2 separate regions of the Homo sapiens genome follow, and region 1 is linked to region 2. A link means that fine-mapping ties the variant in region 2 to the expression of a gene that starts in the linked region. Tissue or cell type: whole blood. Region 2 holds a variant in brackets; the other region holds the start of a gene. All regions are shown on one strand. Distances are between the middles of the regions.

Region 1 (8,000 bases), 200 kb before region 2:
TCTCTTCATTCTCTGCCACTGATTTACCCAGGACTCTACTGTGTCTTACCTAGATTATTATTATTATTATTACTTTTTGAGACGGAGTCTAGCTGTGTTGCCCAGGCTGGAGTGCAGTGGCGCAATCTCAGCTCACTGCAAGCTCCGCCTCCTGAGTTCACGTCATTCTCCTGCCTCAGCCTCCCGAGTAGCTGGGACTACAGCGCCCGCCACGATGCCTGGCTAATTTTTAGTGTTTTTAGTAGAGACGAGGTTTCACCGTGTTAGCCACGATGGTCTCGATCTCCTGACCTCGTGATCCACCCGCCTCGGCCTTCCAAAGTGCTGGGATTACAGGCGTGAGCCACCGCGCCCGGCCTGTCTTACCTAGATTATTAAAATAAAAAACTCTCTTTCCCTTTCATTCTCATCACCTCATTTGATTTCTTTTCATTTTACACATCGTTAGAGAAAGCCCCCTAGAGCAAAAAATTCTGTTATTTCCTTCCTTACGATGGTTTCTGCATAGATTAATGGTGAAATGCTAACTAGTACGTCCCTGTTCAAAGCCCTTCACAAAGTGATACAAACTCTTCTTTCTATGATTCCTCCTCTACCCTATACACTTTCTATTTTGTGATATGAAAATATTTCTAAAGATCAAATTTTTATGCTCAAAATTTGAAAAAATATAAAAGTCTAAAAAACTTAGAATAATTTAAAAATGGGCCTCAAAAGTGAATTGAAAGATGTATTTTATACTGTAGACACATGGTGGCACCATTTTAGCAGCCTAGCAGCAATACTAGAGAACCTTTGTTAATATTGTGTGATTATGCTCTAAAATTGTGCAAGCGCTTTAAATGGCTAATGTGATACTACTTTAATCATTTATTAATGGTATTTTTAGTGCTAGAAATGCTCCACAATATCAATAACTTTGAAACAGAATTTAGAGGTGATAGTTATTTATACATTGTTTTTATTACTCTTTTGTTATGGGCTGAATTGTGTCAACACTTCCATGTTTATATGTTGATGTTCAAACCCCCAATATCTCAGAATGAGACTGTATTTAGAGATAGGGTCTTTAATGAAATAATTAATTTAAAATTATTAGGATTGGCCCAAATCAAATATGACTAGAGTCTTGATAAGAAAATTAGGACACAGACATGTATAGAGAGAAGACCCTGTAAGAACGCAGAAGGTACTGATCTGCAAGCCAAACAGAGAGGTCTCAGAAGAAACCAGCTGTGCTGATACATTGATCTCAAACTCTTAGCCTCCAGAATTGTGAGAAAATAAATATCTATTGTTTAAGCCACCAAGTCAGTCTGTGGTATTTTGTTATGAAAGCCCTAGCAAACTCATATTCCTTTCGGTATATTTACAAATATAGAAACCATACAATAGTTGTGGATTAATGTACTATATGAGTGCAATCTCCATATTATATATTTATTTTTACAGAAAAACTGAGTCTTGATTTATGAGTTTGTAAATTATTTAAGCTCTTCAGAAGTCCTCGCCTCAAATAAAATGCTACTGTCCTGAATGTTGGCCCTGTTCTCTACTGACTATTAACCCAATTTATTGTGTGTTTTTCCGCATTTGTATCCTTGCTCAGCTGAGCCGAGTTTACTGGAGTGGTTAAGGGTGCAGGCTCTACAGCTGGACTGTGTGGACTCACAGCCCTAGTTCATCACTAACTGTGACTCTAGACAGTTATTTAAAAAACGTTGGCCACATTTTTCTTGGAAATCTATGAAACAGAGATAATAAGAGTGCCAGCAATAGAGGGCTCTGTGAAGATCGAATGAATTGATACAAAGTATGTAGAATAGTACTGGGAACTGAGAAAATGTGTTATGCTGTTGATTATTCCTCTGCTTAAGTTCCATTTATTTCCTTGGATAAAAACAAAAAACTGCCTATCCTTCGAAGCACATGAAAGATACCTCCTCTTTGAAGTTCAGTCACTATACCTCCTGCTTCTTCTCAAGTTGAATAATAAAGAAACTTGTGCAAAGATATTGCAAGAGATGAGCTTTAGTTTCCAAAAATTTGGATTCAAATTTTTTTTTGCATTTATCTATCATGTAATTTATCTATCATGTAATTTTAGACATTTTGCTTAATTTGTTTGAGTTTCCACAGCTAGTATATAACCTGACACAGTGGAGCTCAGTATTTTTCTAACAAATATGTTTTTCCATTTGTAGGCTGGGAAACATAATGTCAGCCTTATAAGATACTGCAGTTTTCTAAAGTGTGGGACAAATTCCTGTGGAGGCACCAAGATAGATACAGACATGGTATCAAGGATACTGTGTTATTCAGATAAAGTTTTTCTTTCAACCCTATTTAAATGCTTCTTGCTAGGTCAAAGAGAAAAATCTCAGTTTGAGGCTAATATTTTTAAATTCTTTTCTAATATCTGCTAATCTCCCTTTTGTAATCCAGACAGACCAAACCTACAATTGAATCACATTTTTTATTCACTACAGTTATATTTACTGTTACTCTTATGACAGCTCATCATGCTTTCTCCATTAATGGTATCTACGTTTTCTTTTAAAAAGAATTCATTTACATATAAAGGTAAGTTAAAGAAAAATATAAAGTACATAATATCGGTATGAGGATTGACAAAGATTCTTGACCAAACTCTAGCCTGACTCTTCTAAGCCCTCTTATCAGCAAAGCCTCAAACTTGCCTATAAAAACTACAGACCCTCAGCACAAATGATTTCATCCACATCCTTCCCCTACCGGTTTGCCCACACATTAAAAGACTTGAACAAACTCATATAGTTTATAACAGCTCAAGGCTGCATCTCTAAGATGAAGCCCCCTTAAATTTCTGTCTGAGAAAGCTCAAGACTGACAAAATAATTTATTTGTTCCAGCCAACATGTGAAAGTAGCACTCATTTCCTAGTGTCTGCGGGAAGGGTAGGAGCCTTATTTCCATAAGCAACAGTTTACAACCCAGATGGATTTCAAATGGACCATTCTTCCGCCATTGTTTTTTGTAAATTTCCGTTTCCCTGACTTTGATCAAGCCCAGTTGTTCTCTTTCCCTACTCCCGCATTCTCCTTTTAAAATACAGTCGCCTCTGGACAAATTGTAGTTTAGTTCATTCTGGATCTTATTCCCGATTGCATTAGTATATCACTATAATAAAAATCTGTCTTCACCACTTTAACTGGTGTCTGCCTTTATCTTTGACAGGATATGGTGAAAATTAATGAGGGTAATTGTGCAAATTATGGAAGTCTGGGCAACATTGAATATAAATTATTGTGTTTACTTCAAGATAGTTGTTAAATTCATTCTCTTACAAGTGTGACAGAATTAGTCGTCTATCAAGTACTGTTTTAATTCATAAAAGTTCCAAGAAAGGGCCAGGCGCGGTGGCTCACGCCTGTAATCGCAACACTTTGGGAGGCCGAGGTGGGCAGATCACGAGGTCAGGAGTTCGAGATCAGCGTGACCAACATGGTGAAACCCCGTCTCTACTAAAAATACAAAAATTAGCCATGATTGCTGGCGCGCGCCTGTAATCCCAGCTACTCAGGAGACTGAGGCAGGAGAATCGCTTGAGCCCAGGAGGCGGAGGTTGCAGTGAGCCGAGATAGCGCTACTGTACTCCAGCCTGGGCGACAGAGCGAGACACCATCTCAGGGGGGAAAAAAAAATCCAAGAAAGAACTGAGTCTGGTACAGAATTCTTGATCCTAAGAAATCCTCCAAATGAAGAAACTTTCAAAGGCTCTGGAAACAATACGAATGATTCTGTCTTCAGTCACAATGATGAACTGAACACAGCTGTCATCTCCCTCCTTCGCACCAAATTCTGGATATTCCAGAAAAGCGCAAGAGAAATAGTGGGAGACAAACACTGGATGCAATCCTCCTATCACCTGTTTTATCCCCCATTCTTACTTCGTCAGAGCTCATTCCATGAAGTGGTAACTTGATGACGATGGAAACATTGGGGGTCCAGCATGGAACTTTTTCCCACCTTTACTTCTTGCCAAAACCTTCCTGGATTCAGTATTGCAATCAATGTTATGGCCCGTTTCCTTTCAGATGCACTTCAAGATTAGCTCTGTCACTGACAACATGGGGAATACATTTCGACCTCCAGATTTTAAAAGTGCCATTATTATTTTGCCATTAGGTAGAAGGCTAAGTCTCAACGTTGTGCTAATAATAGCATCTTTAAGTCCCTGGACTAAGACCTCGGCTCCTGGTTCGGGAATCAGACTGCCTGGGCGGCACTCCAGGCTCCACAGCTCCCCACCTGTGAGCTCCTGGGCAAGTCACTCGGTCCGGATTTCCAGAGGTAGTTTGGGGGAACTGACAGTACACACACCACAGGGCAGTAGTAAGAAAGAGACAATGCAAAGGAATTGGCACAGCACTCAGCAGACAATATAAGCTAATATGTACTCTGTCTACACCCTGCGTTTTAGGGAGTCAATCGAAAGCCTCCACTCACGTGACCACTCCACTACCCGGCGCCAAGACGCGCTGATGTCACGACAGCGTGCGGCGTGCAGACGTCGGCAAGCTGCGCCGCCGCTTCGGGTTGCTTCCGGATCTGGTACTTGGGCAGAGCTCCCCGGGGTTCATTGTCTTCGCTTCACAGGATCTGTTTGAGTCCTGTCCACCGGATCCTACGGGGGGTACCTTCGAAAAAAAACGGGCTATGCTGCTGTTGCGTGTGGGTACCCTCTCCTGACGCCTCCGCCGCCCGGGTCATGTGGACCCTCGTGGGTCGGGGCTGGGGGTGCGCACGCGCTCTCGCGCCACGAGCCACTGGGGCCGCGCTTCTGGTGGCCCCGGGGCCCCGGTCCGCGCCGACCCTTGGGGCTGCTCCAGAGTCCTGGGCTACCGACAGGCTCTACAGCTCCGCAGAATTCAAGGTGACTGCCCCCTGGAATCTGATTTAGCCAAGTTTTCAAACGTTGGAGTGCCCCATGCGATCTTGGACATGTATAGGGCTTTCTGGGACTAGCTCTGAACCCTGCTTGCAACTTGGTACAGGGAGGCAGAGCGGAGAGTGTGAGCACTGCTCAGGTTCCCGACCCTCCACTCCTCACTAGTGTGACCTTGGGCAAGTCACTAACTTTGTAGGTTTTCTCATTTTCAATGTCAAATGTTGATTTGTTTACGCGAGCCACTGGTCGAAGTGCTTTGCGTTTATTCATCTATTTAATTCTAAAAAGCCTACTAAGCAAGTTGCTAGTAAATATTAATATAACGTCCATTTTCCTGCAAATTAAGTAGCTATGTGGCCTGGGCAAGTTACTACATTGTCACTCTCCTACTTCATTTGTTGAATGCAGAACTGATCAAACATCCAGTGGCTAATTTGTGAGATTTGTGTGATGTGAGAAGTGGACTTTTTTAGACTAATACCTAGAATGCAGGAAGTTCTCGGTCTGTCTTTGTAGTTTTATTTCATTCTACCTCAGCCAGAGCAAACCTGTGTAATTTTGACTCTGGTGGGAGAGGGTGGGAGGTTCAACAACTCTGATAATTGTGAATGGATACATTTTAGTCAGAAAAGTGAAGTGACTGAAGGCAAGCTATAAGTAGGCAGAAAGACAAAACCTTAAATTAATCAACTTTGGCCCTAATATGCCTGTGTTTTTAAAAATGGATTTATATTGCAATTCGAAGTATAAAGATGGTGCAATTCTCTATACCTTTTGAACTGAAGGGAAAGAAAATCTACAGGGCAAACATCAGAATTAGTTTTTTTTCGGCAGACTTTCAGCTATAATTGTGCTTTTATTATCTGTCTTTATGGGGCTATTAAAAAACAAAGCTCACGTGAATTTTATATTTCATTGTAATTTCATGGTTTTGCTGATTGTGAAATATGCAGTTGATTGGAAAAAAATAGAGTACAAAAAACTGGTATATTTTGCTTGATAACAATTTCTAGCAATTTGTGATGTGTTTCAGTAAAACGTTAAAGAAGATGTGTACACGAAAAACCAGGAGTTCCATTTTAAAATATTTTTAAGTTTTAAGTGATAAGTCTTTTGTTGGATGTCATCTTTTTTTCTTTCTCACCAGAGAAGCTGCAAAGTAGCAAAATTGTATTTAAAATAAAATTTTGAGGCTCCATTAGAGACACAGATTTTTAAATAAATCTGATTCCTGATTAAATGTGTGATAGGAGCAGAAAATTTATCTTCTTTCAGCTTTTCTGTAGCTCCATTGCCTCAAAAGTTTTACTAGACAAGGTATTCTCAGGCCTTTAGAAGTTCTAGGTGTCTCATGTTCTCCATTCACGATAATAAATTCAGTTCCTGATTGGCCCTAAAAATTGTGTAGAAATGTTAAGGGATTATGATTTAGCTGTATAGTTACCTTTGGCTATTAAACTGATGTTCCTTGTAATATGAACTTAGCCATACATGTCTTTTTCTTAGAATAATAATATAAACAATATAAATGCTAGAAATGATATTGTTCAACGATTAAAAGAATATTCTTTGAATTGGTATACTTGTTTGATAGTATGCCAAATTTATACTCCTAAATGTGGTATTTCCCCTTTCTAGGAAAAACTTGACATGTCTAGGTTTCCTGTTGAAAATATTAGAAATTTCAGTATTGTTGCACACGTGGATCATGGCAAAAGTACTTTAGCTGACAGGCTCCTAGAACTTACAGGTATTTCATTTATGTTACATACTTAACTGATGGCTGCGAGTTATTGGGAATTACTTTTACTCTTAAATTTTAATTTTATAAGTAATATTCTCTTTTTTTTTTAAAGCCCAGAGAAATATCAATAAGTGTTTCTGTTTATAGGGACAATTGATAAAACAAAGAATAATAAGCAGGTTCTTGATAAATTGCAAGTGGAACGAGAAAGAGGAATCACTGTTAAAGCACAGACAGCATCTCTCTTTTACAATTGTGAAGGAAAGCAGTACCTTTTAAATCTCATTGATACACCGGTAAGTTTAATATTAATTTTGCATGTATTGTTAAAGTCAACATTGTGTCAGTAGTGCAAACAGATCCTTGTTTAATTTTTGAACTGAGTATTAAACATCTGCCTTTGCTTTTTGTTTTCTCAGTGTTCTTATGTTAGTGTCAGTTGTTTCAAAAGTGCAGGCTACAAAAAAGAAACGAATATTTAACAGCTTTTATCAAGTAAAGTCAATAAATTTGCCATAATGCTCTTTCCTAAAAAATTAACTCACATTTACAGGTATCAATATTTTTGTTTCTCAGGGCCATGTTGATTTTAGTTATGAAGTATCCAGGTCACTTTCTGCTTGCCAGGGTGTTTTACTTGTGGTTGATGCAAATGAGGTAGGTATTTTTCATTTTGTATGATGTGATATGACATGACTATTTGGTTGTTTCAAGAGTTTTTCTTTAAAATGTGTTTTGGAAATAGAATTTTTGTGTTTGAAAAATAGATTTAATCTGTTACTTACTGAAAATCATATGGTTTCATCCTGTTAATCTGAAATATTATTACAATAAAGCATTCTCTGGAATTGACTAGTTTTTAAATTGGAATTGTTCAAAAGATTGTTGTATTTTTTTGAAGTGTGACATCATATTGTCAATGCATCTTACCAAAAAAACCCCACCAACTTTAGCAGTTCTTAATCTGAGGTTTCTATATCCATTTTTAGCAGATCTTAAGAATAAATCATTAGTTTTCAGATCATTTTAGGTGATTTTAAGGCAATAATTTGGAAGTATTAGGTTTTTAAAAAATCAGTAACATTACTAAGCTCTTTTGTTGTGTAAGCCGTAAAGACACTCAGCAGATGACCATGTAAGAGCTGTGAATATAAACTTTTGTTACATGTTTCTCACAAACTCTTCATTCAAAACCCAACTTTTTTTTAGTGGTGGTGGTGACCGTGTTGTGTTAAGCCGTTAAGCCTTTCCTGATCCCATCAAGGAAAGTCAATCTCTACCTTATGTAGGCAGTACTGGCCTTTATAAACTACCTTGATGACTGTG
Region 2 (8,269 bases):
GTTAAGCAGCTCTGTTTAATTACAGAAGCCAGACGCACATAAATTCAAATGAACCACTAAGGCCACACCTTAAGAACAGAGTATTGCTCATTAATTACACACAATGAAACACATGTTGTTTCAATTTTTAAGATGTTCAATTGCATTTCTTTTTTTGAGAGAATCACAGAATCAAAGAACAGGAACAAATATCAGGGATTCCCCAAGTAGAATTCTGTTTACTAGCAGCAACCTACTTGTTCTGCCACTGCAAGCCCAGTGAGATCTTTACTGGTTGTGTCCCCTTTTTTCATTCCTTCCTTCACACCTTCCTCTACCAACATTTATCACCTTCTACTGTACCCCATATCAATAAATCCTGGCCTCTCCCCTTTTGTTTCCTTCCACCATGTTCTGTGGGAACTCATATTTAACATTAGCACACTTCTCCTTTTTCCTGGGATACTTCCTCTACCTCTTGATGTTCACTGAACATCAAGCATGCTATGCTTTAGAATGCTTTAGAACTTGGTCTTTTCTTTTTATTTACATTAATACTAGACTTCTCAAGGCCTTGACATTTGGTATTCCCTCTACTGAGGACTCCTTTCTATATGCTAAGATCCAGGAAGACAGGGATCATCTACCTTTGAGGGGCGGACACCTCAGATAGATATTTGCCACAGTGCTGAGGATATTGTGCACAGTAGGCTCACTTATTTGTTGAATTAACTAGTGAGTGAGTGGGTGAATGAATACATTAATTAAAAGTGTATTCTATATTTACTGTTCATATTTTCTCCCCTTCTTTCAATATGCAAACATTACATAGTTTGCCTTTCTTTTCCATAGGAATGGATTTTTCAAAAACTTGAAAATGACTTTGAGACCATCACATTTCTAAATACAGGAGTCATTTTTCATAACTCATCCTGATAATTTTTCAGCCTTTTTTGTCACCTTCTTCTTTTCTAATCATTATATTCTTCAAAGGAAAAAAAAATGCTTCCATTAATTCCTGTCTTTTATTTTGTTGGAATAAAGTGATTCCTAAAATTCTTATGACCACATTTTATGCTTTGCTTTGGTGACTTAGCATTATGTTAGCTTGTGTTAATTATAGTTACATATATATTCTTATTTCCCATGTTATATTATAGATTCCATGTGGTTAAAAACTGCTACTATTTATGGAACAGTAACAGGCATTATTCTGAGTACTATATACATAATAACATAGTCCTTATACCTCTATAAATTAGGTATATTATCATCATTGTTTCCATTTTACAAAGGAGGAAACTGAGACCAAGAAAAATAAGTGCCTAAGGTCATTCGGTTAGTAAATGGCAGAGCCAGGAGTCCAGCACAAAGTCTGAATTAAAGCTTTATGTGCTATCCTCTACCAGATGTTAGCCTTTCACAGCATGACCTGCACTTTATGTCTCTTTGTATCCTCAGTATCTGGCTTGGCACATGAGATATAATGGGTACTTAATAAAATTTTGGAGGGGAATTAGACTGTATTATTTATATAGATCCCTTATTTTACCTCTTTGGAAACTGAGGATCACTTAGGCATACTCAGGCAGAATCAGGACTAAAACCAAATCGCTATACTTCTTCGAAGTTCTTTTCACTGCCTTTAGAGCATTGTAGAAACACAGGATATTAATTTCATAATCAATAACCTTCACTTGATGTGAACCTACTAACAAATCCTTAATATGTTATAATTCAACCAGGATTTTTTTACAATTTTAATTCTGCTTACATGTGTCTCTGGTTAAATTGGGAGTTGAGGTTTGATTTCTGGTGGAAGTGCCTGGTCACAAATTAGCTGAATGACCTGGAACAAGTCTCCTTACCTTTCTGAGTCTAATATGTTATGTGTGTGAATTGGCTTAAAATCTCTAAATTTCTTCCAACTGAAACCCTTGTGTTTTTTTTCAATTTTGTATTTTTAGTAAGCTAATATGGATTTCTTAATTGAATTATTCATTTAACAAACATTTATTGAATGCCTACTGTGTGCAGGAGATTTTAGACCACTTCCAAAGTTAGGAAGGCAGAGAGGAAAATGAACATATTTATTTCATTAGCAGGCTGCATGCATTTCTCAGAATATCTCCTGATATTCATTTGAAGAAAATAGAGCCCAATTTGTTGCACCCCTCTGAGACATCTGTGATTCCAGATTCTCCCGGGACTTTAGATATTTATTATATCTAATATATCCCTGGACTTTACTTATTTTTCCAAATAGATTCATCCCTTTGTATAATGCAACTCATTTTCTATGATAAGAATTATTTTGTTAAATGTTATGCATACAATTGTCTTAATAGTTTATTTATCCCGTGGTGTCATGTAGCTGTGTACTTAAAAATAAGCTGTAGGTGTTGCAGGAAGAAGCCCAGTTGTAAGGAATGGGTTTGAAGTGTGTTTCTGCAGAGTTCCAGGTTCCAGACTGCATCTGCAATGTAAGGCTTCTTTAGTAATTTCCATTAGAGAGATGGCTCTTTTATCTGCCCAGTTTTTGTAGATGTGGGTAATATTGGTTGACTCGTGTCATGTTTCAGAGCAACAACTTTGCCTGCTCTTTAAATTCTCTGACCTCAGTTACGCATGTATCCTTCTTAATTTAGGCATTAATATTGTTCTTAGAAATAGAGCAGGAATTTATATCCCAGCCTGACCAACTTCAATCCATTAAGCCTTTATTCTAAATGTCCATATTCCATTTTAACCCTTAATTCTTCCAATATAAATCTTGTTTTCAATCATTAGCTAAAGTCTCTATTGAAGTCAGCTTTATGAACCTACACTCCACTTATTAAGATATAATTTTATATATGAAATATAAACTTTTAAAAAATATTAAAGTATTTATAATAAAATCAATGTTATTTTATTCCAAGTTTTAGCTTGAATGTTTAAGTACTTGTATATAGAAAATGGTTCAATTTCTCAAAATGGTTTTGGAAGTAATTTTCCCACAGGCATACTTTTTTTGGTATTCATTTTCTGTTTCGGCATAGAAAGATAAAATGTTCTCATTTATGCACAGATAATTACAATATTCATATAACCTTTTAGAAGTCTTTATTATTATTTTCTTGTCCTTCAAAGTTTCTGTATTTACTGAATTTTATATCAGCCTAAGCATAGGGAATTCTTCCAGCTTGCACTTAAACTAATTTTTGAAAGAAAGCCGCATAATTTATACCTTATATTGCATAGTATTTATAAAACTACATTTATTAAAGCTTTGCAGACAAATGTGTTTAGTGCTTGCTGGCATTTTTTTCATGGTTTGGATCGATTATTCAGCTCTGATTTATGGTAGCTTTTCCTCTTCACATTCTGTGGATGCTTCTCTACCAGTAACAAGGAAAATTGTGCAACTACAATATTTACTGTGAAAATATGATTTCTCAGCCTTTCTTTTATATAACAAATTTAAGGGTCTCTTATTTTCTTTTAAATATTATCTGTTATAATAATTTGTAGCTTCTTATGTATGTACTCTCTGTGTTCTATCAATAAATATGTAAACAGAACATTTTTTTCTCATTACCTAATTCAGGATGTTCAAAGGAAAACAGTACAGGACAGTGCTTGGATTTGGGCTATGGAGACAAAATACCTGGGTTCAAATCCTACTTCTACGATTTCCAAACTCTGGTCTTGGGACATGTTAATTAACATCTCTAAGCCTCAGTTTTATCATTTGTAAAATGGTATTAATACGCCTAAGAGTTAACTTCGATTGATCACTTAGCATATGTGCAGAGTTGTTTTAAAAGTTTTTTATTAATTAACACATTGACTCCTCACAACAACCTTATGAGGATGTTCAATTATTACATCTATTTTTCAGAAGCAAATTAAAGCACAGAGAGGTTAAGTAGCTTGCTCAAGGTCTCATAAGGCAGTTGAGAGGATTAAAACCTTATAGAGTAACTCACAGTGATCACCAAACCGAAAACACTGAAGAAAAGCATTTTCTCAAAAAGTCAAGAAGATCCCTTGACCACATTTTCTTGTATTTTCAATAATAGATGAAAGGAGTACAGGTTGTTCTCTTCTCTCGAGATAATTACTTCATTGTTTGGGTTAAAAGTTCTGGAAATTTGACAGGGACTAGTTGGGCTCATTTTATATAGAGATCTTGCCAGGTTAAATGACTTGGCAAAGCCTTCAGAGAAAAAAAGTGTCAGTTCAAAGACTTACATCCACATTTTCTATCTTAACTATGGGCCTATTTTCTGTATTGCTCCTCACATGGCTATCAGCTTGTTGTTGGCAATTTATTTTTTAGTTGGAAAGCTCAAAGGTCAAGGAGGTGTGGCTTGTTTTGTCTATTTGCCACGAAATAGTGAAGACAAACTTCCCTCATGTCAAAGTTACAACTTTTGGCAAGACAAAAAAAAGTGATTTATGTTTTTATATTGTCCCCTGTAACCACATTTTATATTTGGTTAAAATAATGCAAAATAGTTTCTTTAGTTGCCTTTCTCTATTAGGAGGTATGAAAGGTCTATTTTATTAATTTTTCAAATTGTCTAATCAAATTATACAAATTAACCTTTTTATTGTGTAACTGCTGCAGGAAATTTAACTACTAGATAATAACTCTCAAACAAAATGTTAGACAAATTAGCTAACAATGATCACATCCAGGATAGGCAAATTTTTCCAAGGGTAAGAAAAAATTCAAGGATCCGTTTTTTTATTTGTTGTCATTTGCTTTATGGTTGAAGTGAAGACAGCAGTTGTACTTTAAAACTCAAAACAAAACATAACCCAGAAATGTAGATGTCCTAGGAGTATTCCTATTTACCCAAGTCCAAAGTTGTTACTCAAACTTTAAATATTACAAAGTATCCCCGGAATGTTGAATGTCATGATTAACAGGACAACTGATAATTATGTGTAGCATGTATACCCAAGAGTTACCTGAATCTCCAAACAAGCCACACCTTTACCCATTGAGTTGGTGAATTTATTTTAACCTTTCACATAAAACCACATTTACATTGAATTGGAAATTTTTCTTTTGTGTTCATTTCTATTCTCTGCTTGAGAGTAATCTTCCCCTTTTCTGCTACTTTCTCAGTGTGCCAAGATGTAGATA[C/A]TTATAGTCTCAATGAGATTGTCATGGATACTATAAGGGATGGAGATACTAGGTGAGATTAAAGTAATTCAACCAAAATGGATCCTTTTCTATTCTACGACAAAATATCAAACTAAATTGCTTGGACTTTGAGGATTTTTATAATGTTTTTCTTTAACTCTTTTGCTTGACATTTAGCATTTTTATCCAATATGAAAATATTCGTTTATATTTTTCTGAATATTATAATTGAACATATATTTATCAAACATGTGGGCAAAATGACATACTCTTAGGTGAACTATTCGGGCTCTGAAGCCAAACTATCTGTGTTTGCATGTCAGCTTTGTGACTTACTGTTACCGGCGCAAGAGATCAGAGTTACCCTCAGTTACTGGCAGCATATGTATGCTGGTCTGTAGCAACTTCAGCCCTTGCCTCCTCGGAAGAAAGAATTCTACTGAGGGGCATAAAGCAGAAAAAGAGACCAAGGCAAGTTTCAGAGCGGGAGTGGAAGTTTATTTAATAAGACTTTAGAACAAGAAAGAAAGGAAAGTTTACTTGAAAAAAGATCCAAGAGGGCGCCTGAAGGTCAAAGAGAGCATTTAACCTTGATCCTAAGGCTTTACAGGCTCACTGCTTTTCCACGGTTCTTCCCTTAGGGTGGGCTTCCCACATGTGCAGTGCCCTCCTTATCCTTGGGAACTGAGCATGTGTAGTGTGTTTAGGAAGTTGTATGCGTGCCCATCTGAAGCTTTCTTCCTTCTTTCAGTGGAGTACACCCAGAAGGTCATACTTTGCCATTTAGTCTCTTAGTGCACATGCCCAGGAAGTTTTTTTCTCCCTGGCATCTGCATTCAATTAACATTTTAATGTTAATAGCTGTGAATTATCAGGAAATGGCCTCTCCTGGTGCCCTGGGTGGGTTGCCAAATATCATTTTAGAGAGGCAGTGTGATAATTGTCAAAGCATCACCTGATATTCCTAGTGGGTGAGGGGAGAGCCCTTTCCTGCCCCACTCATGCTGGCCTAACTACTGTAACATTACCACATCGCACTGGACAAATTACTTGCCTTTTCTGTGCCACAGGTCCTTCCTCTGCAAAAGAGCTTGAGAGGATGGATACCCCATTTTCCATTATGTAATTATTATGCATTGCATGCCTATATCAACACATCTCATGTATTCCATAAATATATACACCTAATATGTACCCACAAAAATTAAACAGTAAAAAAATTGTAAAAAACAAAACAAAAAAGGAGAGTGGATTATATCATATGCTGCAAAAAGTCATGAAGATTAGATGAGTCAATATGTGTAAAGTGCTTAGTGTAGTACCTGGCATAAAACAAAGGAAGGTTTTTTTTTTATTAGTATTGCTTTCATTGGCATAAATGACCACTGAGGTTGAAATATTTTTTCCTAACCATTTCTATTTCTTATATGAATTTTGCTTATATACTATTTTTATTGGCGTGTTTATCTTTTTCTCATTGATTCTTCAAAGCTATGTATATATGTGTGTGATTTATTGAATGCCATAAATGTGACAAGTGTTCAAAAGAACTACAGTCAGGGAGGAGCCAAGATGGCCGAATAGAAACAGCTCCAGTCTACAGCTCCCAGCGTGAGCGGTGCAGAAGATGGGTGATTTCTGCATTTCCATCTGAGGTACCGGGTTCATCTCACTGGGGAGTGCCAGACAGTGGGCGCAGGACAGTGGGTGCAGTGCACCATGTGTGAGCTGAAGCAGGGCAAGGTATTGCCTCACTTGGGAAGCACAAGGGGTCAGGGAGTTCCCTTTCCTAGTCAAAGAAAGGGGTGACAGATGGCACCTGGAAAATCGGGTCACTCCCACCCTAATACTGCGCTTTTCTAACTGGCTTAAAAAATGGCACACCAGGAGATTATATCCCGCCCCTGACTCAGAGGGTCCTACGCCCACCGAGTCTCACTCATTGCTAACACAGCAGTCCATGATCAAACTGCAAGGTGGCAGCGAGGCTGGGGGAGGGGCGCCCGCCATTGCCCAGGCTTGCTTAGGTAAACAAAGCAGCCGGGAAGCTTGAACCGGGTGGAGCCCACCACAGCTCAAGGAGGCCTGCCTGCCTCTGTAGGCTCCACCTCTGCGGGCAGGGCACAGAAAACAAAAAGACAGCAGTAACCTCTGCAGACTTAAATGTCCCTCTCTGACAGCTTTGAAGAGAGTAGTGGTTCTCCCAGCATGTGGCTTGAGATCTGAGAATGGGCAGACTGCCTCCTCAAGTGGGTCGCTGACCCCAAGTAGCCTAACTGGGAGGCACCCCCCAGTAGGGGGCAGACTGACACCTCACATGGCCAGGTACTCCTCTGAGACAAAACTTCCAGAGGAACAATCAGGCAGCAGCATCTGTGGTTCATCAATATCCACTATTCTGCAGCCACTGCTGCTGATACCCAGGAAAACAGGGTGTGGAGTGGACCTCTAGCAAACTCCAACAGACCTGCAGCTGAGGGTCCTGTCTGTTAGAAGGAAAACTAACAAACAGAAAGGACATCCACACCAAAAACCCATCTGTACATCACCATCATCAAAGATCAAAGGTATATAAAACCACATAGATGGGAAAAAAACAGCAGAAAAACTGGAAACTCTAAAAATCAGAGTGCCTCTCCTCCTCCAAAGGAACTCAGCTCCTCACCAGCAATGGAACAAAGCTGCATGGAGAATGACTTTGACGAGTTGAGAGAAGGCTTCAGACAATCAAACTACTCCAAGCTACAGGAGGAAATTCGAACCAATGGCAAAGAAGTTAAAAGCTTTGAAAAAAATTAGAAGAATGGATAACTAGAATAACTAATGCAGAGAAGTCCTTAGAGGGCATGATGGAGCTGAAAACCAACGTGTGAGAGCTACGTGATGAATGCAGAAGCCTCAGTAGCTGATGCGATCAACTGGAAGAAAGGGTATCAGTGATGGAAGATGAAATGATGAAATGAAATGAGAAGAGAAGTGTAGAGAAAAAAGAATAAAAAGAAACGAACAAAGCCTCCAAGAAATATGGGACTATGTGAAAAGACCAAATCTACATCTGATTGGTGTACCTGAAAGTGACGGGGAGAATGGAACCAAGTTGGAAAACACTCTGCAGGATATTATCCAGGAGAACTTCCCCAATCTAGCAAG

The links. PIP is the estimated chance that this variant, and not a neighbour inherited with it, causes the effect.
Region 1: GUF1 starts here. The variant in region 2 is fine-mapped to the expression of GUF1 in whole blood (INTERVAL, PIP above 0.99).

What each region holds. Positions count from the first base shown.
Region 1 is chr4:44,673,873-44,681,872 of GRCh38, forward strand. GUF1 (GTP binding elongation factor GUF1) reads left to right here and starts at 4,548. Exons shown (of 17, transcript NM_021927.3): 1 at 4,548-4,915; 2 at 6,569-6,680; 3 at 6,822-6,970; 4 at 7,251-7,331. The coding sequence starts at 4,751. RefSeq lists an enhancer at 3,767-4,655 and a silencer at 4,727-4,886.
Region 2 is chr4:44,872,783-44,881,051 of GRCh38, forward strand. No RefSeq gene overlaps it. Among named protein-coding and RNA genes, the nearest start is that of GNPDA2, 150 kb to the left of the region's middle. The variant C/A (reference allele first, on the strand shown) is at 5,120.